2 separate regions of the Homo sapiens genome follow, and region 1 is linked to region 2. Evidence: fine-mapped expression QTL. A gene starts in region 2. The other region holds a variant in brackets. All regions are shown on one strand. Distances are from middle to middle. Region 1 overlaps ETNK1 (ethanolamine kinase 1). Region 2 holds the start of ETNK1 (ethanolamine kinase 1).

Region 1 (5,000 bases), 22 kb before region 2:
GGAGAAAAGATAGACTTTTCAATAAATTGTGCTGAACAACTGGACCTTCACGTGCAAAAACATGAATCTAGACATAGACCTTACACTCTTCATTAAAATTCTGTCAAAATGGATTACAGACCTAAATGTAAAATCCAAAACTAAAATTCCATGAGAAGATAACATAGGAGAAAATGTAGATGACCCTGGATTTGGCAATGACTTTTTAAAAATGACACCAAAGGCATGATCCATGAAAGGAAGAACAGATAAGCTGGACTTCATTAAAATTAAAACTTTCTACTCTGCAAAAGACACTGTCAAGAGAATAAAAAGATAAAGCACAGATTGGAAGAAAATATTTGCAAAACCCATATCCAATAATGGATTATTATCCAAAATACACAAATAGCTCTTAAAATTCAGCAATAAGAACACAAACAACCCAATTTAAAAATGGACCAAATACCTTATCAGACATTTCATCAAAGATACACAGATGAGTAAATAAGCATATGAAAAGATATTCCATATCACATATCAGGGAAATGCAAACAAAAACAGTAAGATACCACTATATATCTATTAGAATGGCCAAAATCCAAAACACTTATAACACCCAATGCTGGTGAGGATGTGGAGCAACAGCAACTCTCATTCATTGCTAGTGGAAATGTAAAATAGCACAGCCATTCTGGGAAACAGTTCGGCGGTTTATTACAAAACTAAATATACTCTTACCATACAATCCAGCAATCATGCTCGTCAGCATTTACCCAAAGGAGTTAAAAATTTGTATGTCTACATTAAAATTTGCACAGGGATTCTTATAGCAGCTTAATTCATAATTGCTAAAACTTGGAAGCAACCAAAATGTCCTTCAGTAGTTGAATGAACAAAATAGATTTGGTGCATATCCAATGAAACATTATTCAGAACCCTAAAAAGAAATCTGCCAATAAGCCATAAAAAGACATGGAAGAAACAAATGCATATTACTAAGTCAAAGAAGCCAATCTAATGAGGCTACTTAATTAAATGACTCCAAATATATGACATTCTGAAAAAGGCAAAACTGTGGAAGCAGTAAAAAGATCAGTGGTTGCCACTGGTTAAGGGGAAAAGAGGGATGAATAGGCAGAGCACAGAGGATTTTTTTAGAGCAGTGAAACTCCTCTGTATGATACTACTAACAGTGGATACATGCATTATATATTTGCCCAAACCCACAGAATGTACATCACCAAGAGTGTACGCTAATGTAAACTGTGGACTTTGGGTGATAATGGTGCATCAATATAGGTTTATGTATTATAACAAAAGTACCACTCTGATATTGATAATGGGGGAGGTTGTCTGTGGAGGAAGGAGGGGATCTGGGAAATCTCTGTACCTTCCCCTCAGTTTTGCTGTGAATCAAAAATGCACTAAAAAACTAAAATCTTTAAAAGGAAAATCTCTTCATTCAGATAACTTAGCATTATTTAATAATCATTAATTTATGTTTTGTATATATAAGAAGGTAATTAAAAATCATTTAAAAGATATCTGATTTTCACTATCATATATTGGTCCTTCTCCTACCTTGTCTCAGTAAGCGAGGTTTTACTACAGTAACATCAAGTCAAACGCTGCTTTAAAATTCCATACTCGTTAAAGCCAAATGTTTCAAACCCTCAAGGCTTCAGAGAATTCCTCAAATATTCACTAACACTAATTGTTACTTCTCTTGAAAGCTTTTAAAAAATTAAATGTATTCTAACAATAACAAAAATATTTTGAAACGAAAAATAATCTTTAATCTTACCATCCCATAGTATTTCATTTTTATATATCCCCTTTGAGTTTTTGCATGAGCAAATTACTGCCTAATTGTAGCCACAGTTAAGCTATTTTTTAAGCTGATTTTTTCCTGTTGCCCTGCATCAGCCATTTTGCATGTATTAGACAATAGTCAAAAAGTTACATTTCAACAGTAGCATAATTCTCCTTTGTGTTGAGGTACCTTAGTTATATCTGAATATAAGAGACTTTTAATTGTTGCTGCCAGAAATACAGCATATAACTTTCTTTTGAGTTATTATA[T/C]ATTGTCCTTTTGATTTCCAAAAGAAAACACTACCAACTGTACATGCACACAACCCACAAGGTGCCAGTTCCACTACGGTACCCTCAGTATGCTCTTTGATAAACTTGCAACAATTGATTTGAAACTGCATTTCTTCCATTATGTCTGTTACTGGATGGTTTGTCATTAAACTTCAGCCAGGTTCTTGACAAGAGGCAAATTTCTAAGAAATATCTGATAAGAAATTTGAAAAAATTTCTAAACACTTTTGAATTTTAAAAAATTTTCTGAAGGTGTCCGTAATAACTGATTGCTACAAAAAAGCTCAAATAAAACAGAGAATGATAAATTTCCATAAGTGGAATTACCCGTCAGGCACTATAGCTCATTGTCTTTACCTATACCATTCCTCACCTCCTACAGGCTACCTTGTCCTTCAAAGTTCAGTTCAAATGTGATCACAGTGAAACATACTAATTTCCTATGTATGCCCAAAATCAACTACCTGTACTTTCTCTGAAAGCCTTTTCTGTTCTTCTTTGTACAATATTTAGGTTATTTTTCCCTCAAGGTTACTGTGTCACAAACTGTAAATTACTAAGACAGCAAGGACAGTTTAGATTCTTCTTCCTCCCCCAGACTAGTCCAAACATAAACATAAGCCTTTTACATTCAAATGAGATACCTTCGTCATAATCATAATATAAGCATACAGCTATGGTTGAATGAGCCAATTCAAGAAAGTACTGTGGACTTTGATCTAAAGCGCTCATCAACATTTACTGATCAATCAGTCCAGATCACTGCATGCATATTATTAGGCTGACCTAACAATCAATAGTGTCTTAAAAGTTTATTATTATATTCAAACATTAAAGCTCATAAGGATTAATCAAAATGTGACAACTAACCCCAAATTGTCAGTAAGTCCCTATTAAATTAACAAATCAAAGATTCTTTTTAACCACAGAATATAAAATTCATTTAAAAGGGGCTAAATAAGCACATCATCCCAAATTTACATCTTTAACCTCTTCTTGGGGCTCCAGACCATGGTCTACTGATCTGCTTACTTGGTATTTTAGAAGTATTTCACCGTACATATTTGAAAAAAATAAAACCACACTCCTATTTAAAATCATGTGTAACTCAGACGTTTTGTTAATCAAAACTTGCCTTTCCCTCCCTTAGCTTTTCTTTTCATATTTTCTGTTTTATAGTGACTAAGACCTGCTTAACAATAAGAAATGCCATAGGAATTAGAATACAGTCTGAAATAAATTTAACAGCGAAACAAATTAAATAGCAAATGTTACTATTCATAATGCCAACTAACAATATCCTATCATACAGGGTTCTTCAGTGTCATCTTCTTTTGCTTACTTTCTCGGCCTCCACTCTGCTTCTCCTCTGCAAAACTGTGGGGCAATTCAATGTATCACTTATTACAAGCCAGCTGTCAAAGAATTCAGAGTATTGATGTTTGGTTTCTAACACAGTATATTCTTTTTATGAAATGTGTATATGCCTACATTAGTATCACTTATACATATTCTGAGTAAATCTAGGAAGGGGGGTGATGAAAAGAAGTTGGTTAATGGGTATGAACGTACAGTTAAATCAGAGGAATAAGTTCTAGCATTCAATAATACAGCAAGGAAATTATAGTTAACAATAATTTATTGTATATTTCAAAATAGCTAGAAAAGAAGAACTGTAATGTCCCAACCCAAAAAAAAATGTCTGAGATGATAGATACACCAATTACTCTAACTTGATCATTATACAGTGTATACATGTATCAAAATATCACATGTACCACAAAAATATGTACAACTATGATATATCAATAAAAAATATATTTTTAAAAAGATCTAAGTAGAGAAAAAATAAACAAAGGCTTTGGCATTTGGGAAAGAAATAATAAGTAAGTAGATCTAACCAAAAAGTATAGAAAAGGATATTTTTACTGAAAACATGTTTATAACATTGTATCAAATACCAAAGTCAGCCTTGACAAACCTTCACTGTTCTTGATCAAAAACTATAATTATTTTACTGTTTCTATTTGAGGTTACTGAAATAGATCAATCATGTTTTACTCTCTGCTTTAGTTACAAGGAAACTCATGTGGCCCTTCTCTAGGAACTTCATGAAATATGTTTTTGTATATATACAAAACCAGCTTTGGGGGGATCCAATCTATGCATCTATTAATTTTTAATGCTGTTATATAGGTATTTGTCAACCATTGTGAACAAGATTGAGGATTTATAAATACATGCAAGCCTAAAGACCACAAAACAATTGACACACAGTAAACACAAATGTATTAATCAGAATCTTTTAATACATCTAAAGACTAGACTCATGTAAAAGAAGAAAATATATGTGATGGCTAAAAACTAGGGTTTGAACAGATTTCTATGACAAAATATTTTAATATATTATTTGATACAGGTTTACAATAGATAAGTGTTACTGGTACATTCCATTTTTGTCAGTGTATTAACTTAGCAATTCTTAACCTATGATCCAGGGAGCCCCGGGCCATCCGAAATCCTTTCAGGAGCTTTGTAAAGTTGAAACTATTTTCACAAGACGTTATTTACCTTTCTCATTCTCACTCTTTCACAAGTGTACAGTGTACCTTTCAAGAGGTTATATGATATGTGATAATTTCATCACAATGATAGCTAACAGGACATGTACTTGATATTCTTGTATTCTAAAAAATTTGTTTTAATATCTAATATGGTAAATATTGATAAACATTAATCAAATATTAAAACAAAGAGCCCAAAGAGCTATAAAGAGGTCTTGAGACCAAAATGGTTGCAAACTGCTGGTCTAACCTATGAATGCTGTTTTCAAATCCAGACCATTTTCTAGAGTTTTCAAGAGCAGAAAGAGAATTTTTAAAGCTGGCAATTTTGGAAAAATGATCAAGCATATA
Region 2 (5,522 bases):
TTGAAAGGTGAATAATCATCAATTCAGCTTAGCAGATGCTTTTAGGACAGCTTCTAGACCAAAGCTTTGCTTGCACATGGAGGGAATGTATTTCTAACTAATAATCATCTTAGGGAAAAATAAATGGTAGTATTTACCTGCACTTACAAATATTAAAAATTCGGATTATAAACCCAAAGGTCTTTAGGTTAAAAGTTGCTACAAGAAACCAAGATTTAAACACACGTAGTTACTTTCCAACAAGCAAAAACAGTTTAATGTCACTACATTTTGCCCTTTTTTACCTACATCCTGGCTTACTTCACTGAGTTTCACCTAAAATGATAGTGCCTACCTAATATGGTTGTTCGGGCGACTAAGATAAAAAAAAAATAATTTAACTAACCCCACAGTAGCTATTATTACTATTCTACAGACAAATACATCAAAGGAAATTCCAGTCTTCAAAGCTTTAAACTTTAAAGTCACTGCTTAAAAGTAACTGATCTGCCAACACTAGAGTTTACCAGGAAGTAGCACTTTTTAATTAATAATGTTTTATGTATAAGTGACTGCCAGAAAACAAATCATCTTAATAAATTTTAGAGTCTTATATAATAAAATACAAACAAATTGATAAACTAAACAAGTACTGAATTTCAATTTGGAAGACACATTTCCTTTAAAGGAAATATATTTTTTAAATGACATAAAAATCACTTTGGATTCACTATTTCCTATATTCTCGGCTAACAAATACTCCCTTAAATTTCAAAATTTGTTGTCTAACAAGTTTCTTCTCCAAAACATACGGGTCCTTTAAAATAATCTGCTTAAAAACTCTTCTAGGTAATAAGAACTGAAACTAACACATGAAAACCCAAGTGTCAGGAACTGTTCTGGGCCCTAGGCACTGCTCATGTTTTATTCATCTTTGTGTGGGTGGCTGGCTAGTTTAGCGAAGAATTTAGCAAATAAATCAACAAATATTGGTGAATAAATTAGTCATCAAAACGAGGCAGATGATTTGGCTAATTCAAATGAATGTTCTTACATTATTGCTCAGATTTAGAACAAATCCCAAATATCCCAATCTTGAAAATTACTGTTTTTTTTTGTTTGCAAGGGAAAAGGAGAAAAAGAGATCTATTTTTGTATCTAGTTCCTGAAACTAAAGCTAAAAACAGATTAGTATTCAAAAAAAATCACGTAGTGGAAATCATAACTTCCAACTTATTAGAAAACTCCTAGAGTCTCAGGGATTTTTTTCCTCCCAATTTTTTCTCTATCAACACGGTGTCTCATGAAAAGGAAACAGTCACAAGCCACTGCTCCTTCTAGTATCAGGTATTAATTTCAGTAAGACGACTTTAATAATTCAGAAATATCGACTCAAACAAAACAATGTGTGTGGTGCTGCCTAAGAACCGACCTAGCGATGCATGGTCGTGGTCATTACTTTGGGAATTGAGTACGCTAGGGTTTGGGAAGACAAAACGCAGTGTGAGGCATCAATGAAAGCACATCGCAGGGGGAGGGGAGAGGAAGGAAAGATCAGAGAGGATTAATGACTGCATTACTGGTGGGAGGGGAGGAGGTAGACGAGGACCCCGTGCAAGGGGAGTGGAAAGGTTCATTTTGCAGTGACCGTGGACTGGGGAGTGGGAGGAGGGGCAACTATCAGCAGGAATCTCCCCCCGTGGATGGGTCCGTCACTTACGCAGCGGCTTCTAGAAAGAGAAAATGTGCCTCAGGTCAATCTCAAAGAGCAACTGCGACGGGAAGGGGGAGTGACCCTCCTAGGTGTGAGGGGAAATACAGGGTCACTTCCCAATAGACTTAAGGAGATGTTGCCCTAGGTCCTCCTCGGTCATCGTGGGACAGAGGCGATTGTGGTGAGGACCCCCAGAGCCGCGTGAGGGGCATAAGAGACCCAGAGCTGAGGTGTGGGCGTTACCTGCAGGGTCACCTCCTGGGGGTCCCAGTGAGGCCGCAGGTGTTGCAGGAGGCTCAGGGCCCCCTCCCGGCAGCGATGCTCCTCCTGATCCTGAACGGTGACGTTCAGCTTGGGCACCTCCGGGGAGCCGGGAGGGACGTGGATGTAATTGGCCATGGCCCAGGCGACGGCGGAGACTACCACCACGACGACGGCGACGGCGACCACGAGAACGGCGGGCGCCGACAGACTGGTGGATCCTTCCGTCCCGGGGCGCCCTCGCGGGAGGGCTGGGGGCGCTGGGACGGGCGGGCGAGCGGCAGGAGAACGTCTGGAGGCGGCACTGTTGCCGATCCGGGTCTGGACAGCAGCTGAACTGAGCCCGGCCCGCTCTCGGAGAAAATTCCTGTTGTCGGAGCTGGACCGCGGGCGGCCGCAGAGCATGCCGGGGCTGGCCTGACGCTGGCGTCACGCGCGGGGCGGGTCCTGCGCTGCGTCAGGGTGCCGAGGCGGGGTTTCTCGCCTCCGGTCACAATGGGACCTCTGTACCGCGCTGGGCTTGTTGGCCTGCGATTAGCACACACCCATCCCTGGGAACTGCTAGTCTGGAAAGCGGGGCTGCTTCTCCGGGATGAGCCCGAGCCCTGCCAAGCCCCTCAAGGCATTGAAGCTTTAGCTCACCTTATCCGAATGGTCATTGGGCATCTGGACTTGAGTTAACGACTGAATTTTTCTGGGAAGCAAGGGACACGTTCTAAAATAACCCCAGGATCACTCTCCGAACTTGGCCTGAGTCTAGGCAAGCAGTGTTACTCGGTCGCCTTGATCTTGGAGCTGCTGTGTACTGGGGACCTCATACTAGTTGGGTTAACTATATTCCCATTAGCAGTACGCGGGATCGCAGTACTCGGGACAAGCTGAGTTCAGGTATTTGGGTAAGACAACTGCAACACTTCAGAGGTTATTTGTGGAGTAAGATGTTCGACCATACAGTGAATAATTCGAAGCTAGGGAGAACAGATTAGAGTCTGGTATGAAGAAGAAAGGGAAGGAAAGGAATAGTTTTGAAGCTCAGCGCTAGAACGACTCGATGTCCATGCCAGGGTACCCCGAGTGGGCCTTGAAATCTTGCGTCTCAGTGCCTTACAGGGAATGGTAGAAACTGGAAAATCTACAAGTAAAGTATTGGGACCTCCTAATTTTCCTTTTAGATGGAGGAAAACGGGCTGGGATTCCCTGCAGCACTTAGCACACGGTGAATACGTTTGTTAGTAGTAAATAAAACCCTTAACTGGACTGAGTTTAATTAACATTCAAAATGTTTAATTACTTCACTAGCATTAAGTTTACATCCTGATTGTTCAGAAAGAACCTACTTACCTTTGTAATTAACAAAATAATTACTTCACCGATAACGGTAAACTTCCTAAACTAAAAAGAGGGGTGGAAATGGAGCTTTATAATACAGCAAAGAAGTTGATTTAACATTTTTCAAATTTAGTGGTTTTTTTGTTTGTTTTTTGTTTCTGTTTTTTTTTGTTTTGTTTTTGAGACGGAGCCTCACTCTGTCGCCCAGGCTGGAGTGCAATGGCGCGATCTTGGCCCACTGCAACCTCCGCCTCCCGGGTTTAAGGGATTCTCCTGCTTCAGCCTCTCGAGTAGCTGGGATTACCGGCGCGTGCCACCACGCCCAGCAAATTTTTGTATCTTTAGTAGAGATGGGTTTCACCATGTTGGCCAGGCTGGTCTCGAACTCCTGACCTCAGGTGATCCACCCACCTCGGCCTCGCAAAGTGCTGGGATTACAGGCGTGAGCCACCGCGCCCTGCCAGATTTAGGCATAATTTTCTACAAGAAACATTAGAGTGTGTGTTCCTTCCACTTTGGGGAGAAATCATAAATATACTACTACTTTCACATTTCAGATAGTATCTCTTGTATTTTTGTATAAATTGTATTTTTTATTAAGCAGTTGACATTTTAAGAATTTTAAAACTATGTAACTGTAAAACAATTTAATTGAAAATTATGTTGCAAACTGCACTAGTTTGTAATGGTAAATAAGAGTCCATTAACAAGTAGAAGAAAAGAAAAAAAAACTATTAGGTACCTGAGAACAAAAGTAACCGAAAATGTACAGGATCCATGGATAAAATTAATGGAGAAATGAACCATATTCATAAATGAGAAAAGATTAATGTAAAGGCCTCAATTTTCCCTGAACTAATCAGTACATATAATGCAATTCCAGTTAAAATCTCAAAAGGGTTTTTTTACTGAACTTGTTAAAATGACATTGAAATTCATATCAAAACTTAAGGTCCAAGAAAAGCGCTGTAATTGGGGAGAGGAGGATAGGGACAGGTAAGATCAGGGAATATATTGGGAGGACCAACCCTACCAGGATGTATTATATATTGGTTTAGGTATGGGCAAATAAACTACTAGAACATAATAAAGTCCCAGAACAAAACCTACACACATATGAGAACTTTGTATATAACAAAAGTAGCATTAAAAATTAGTGAGAAAGTCCAGACTGATCAATGAACCGTAGTGATACAATTGCTTTTTGTATGAGAAAAAAATTTTGATCCCTCCCTCTTATTATGCATAAAAATTAATTTGGGGAAGATTAGAAACCTAAATGTTAAAAGCAAAACTTTAAAAATGTGCAAGAAATATCAGTTCTTATCAACCTGATCTACTGATTCAATTCTAATCACCTCAAGTTATGTTGTGGATATCAGCAAACCAGTTCTAATGTTTACATGCAAAGCCACAAGAGCCAGAATAGCCAATACAATATTAAAGAAAAACAAAGTGAGAAAACAGACAGACTTGAAGACAGTATAGCTGGGTGCAGTGGCTCATGCCTGTAATCCCAGCACTTTGGGAAGCTGAGGCAGGAGGTTCGCTTGAGCCCAGGAGTTTAAGGCCAGCCTGGGCAACACAGTGAGACCTCATCTCTCCAAAAAAAAAATTAGCCAGGTGTGGTGGTGCACACCTGTAGTCACAGCTACTCCGAGGCTGAGACAGGAGGATTGCCTGAGCCCAAGAGATTGAGGCTGCAGTGAGCCATGATCAAGTTACTGCACTCAAGCTTGGGCAACAGAATTAGACCTTGCCTAAAAAAAGAAAAAAAAATAGTATATGTTCCAATAATCAAGACAGTGTAGTATTGAAGCCAAGGCGAGTGAATCACTTGGGGTCAGTAGTTTGAGACCAGCCTGGCCAACATGGTGAAACCCTGTTTCTACTAAAAATATAAAAATCAGCTGGGCGTGGTGGCAGGCACCTGTAATCCCAGCTACTCGGGAGGCTGAGGCCGGAGAATCACTTGAACCTGGGAGGCGGAGGTTGCAATGAACCAAGATCACACTACTGCACTTCAGCCTGGGTAATAGAGTGAGACTCTGTCTCAAAACCAAAAAAAAAAGACAGTGTAGTACAGTGTAGTATTCTCAAAAGAATAGAGAAATAGATCTATGGAACAAAATAGAGTCCAGAAATAGATCCACACAAATATAGTCAACTAATATTTAATATTTAACAAAGGAAAAAGGCAATTCAAATTTTCAATAAATGGTGCTGGAACAACTGGAGA

Evidence for each region. PIP is the estimated chance that this variant, and not a neighbour inherited with it, causes the effect.
Region 1: its variant is the best candidate, but not a certain one, in a credible set for the expression of ETNK1 in whole blood (TOPMed, PIP 0.63).

The regions. Positions count from the first base shown.
Region 1 is chr12:22,644,483-22,649,482 of GRCh38, reverse strand. All of the region lies in intron 2 of ETNK1 (ethanolamine kinase 1), which reads right to left. Among named protein-coding and RNA genes, the nearest start is that of ETNK1, 22 kb to the right of the region's middle. The variant T/C (reference allele first, on the strand shown) is at 2,065.
Region 2 is chr12:22,622,001-22,627,522 of GRCh38, reverse strand. It overlaps ETNK1 (ethanolamine kinase 1), which reads right to left and starts at 2,352. Exons shown (of 8, transcript NM_018638.5): 1 at 1,937-2,352. The coding sequence starts at 2,092. ETNK1-DT (ETNK1 divergent transcript) reads left to right here and starts at 2,477. Exons shown (of 4, transcript NR_135030.1): 1 at 2,477-2,850. RefSeq lists enhancers at 1,229-1,918, 1,938-2,107, 2,638-2,707.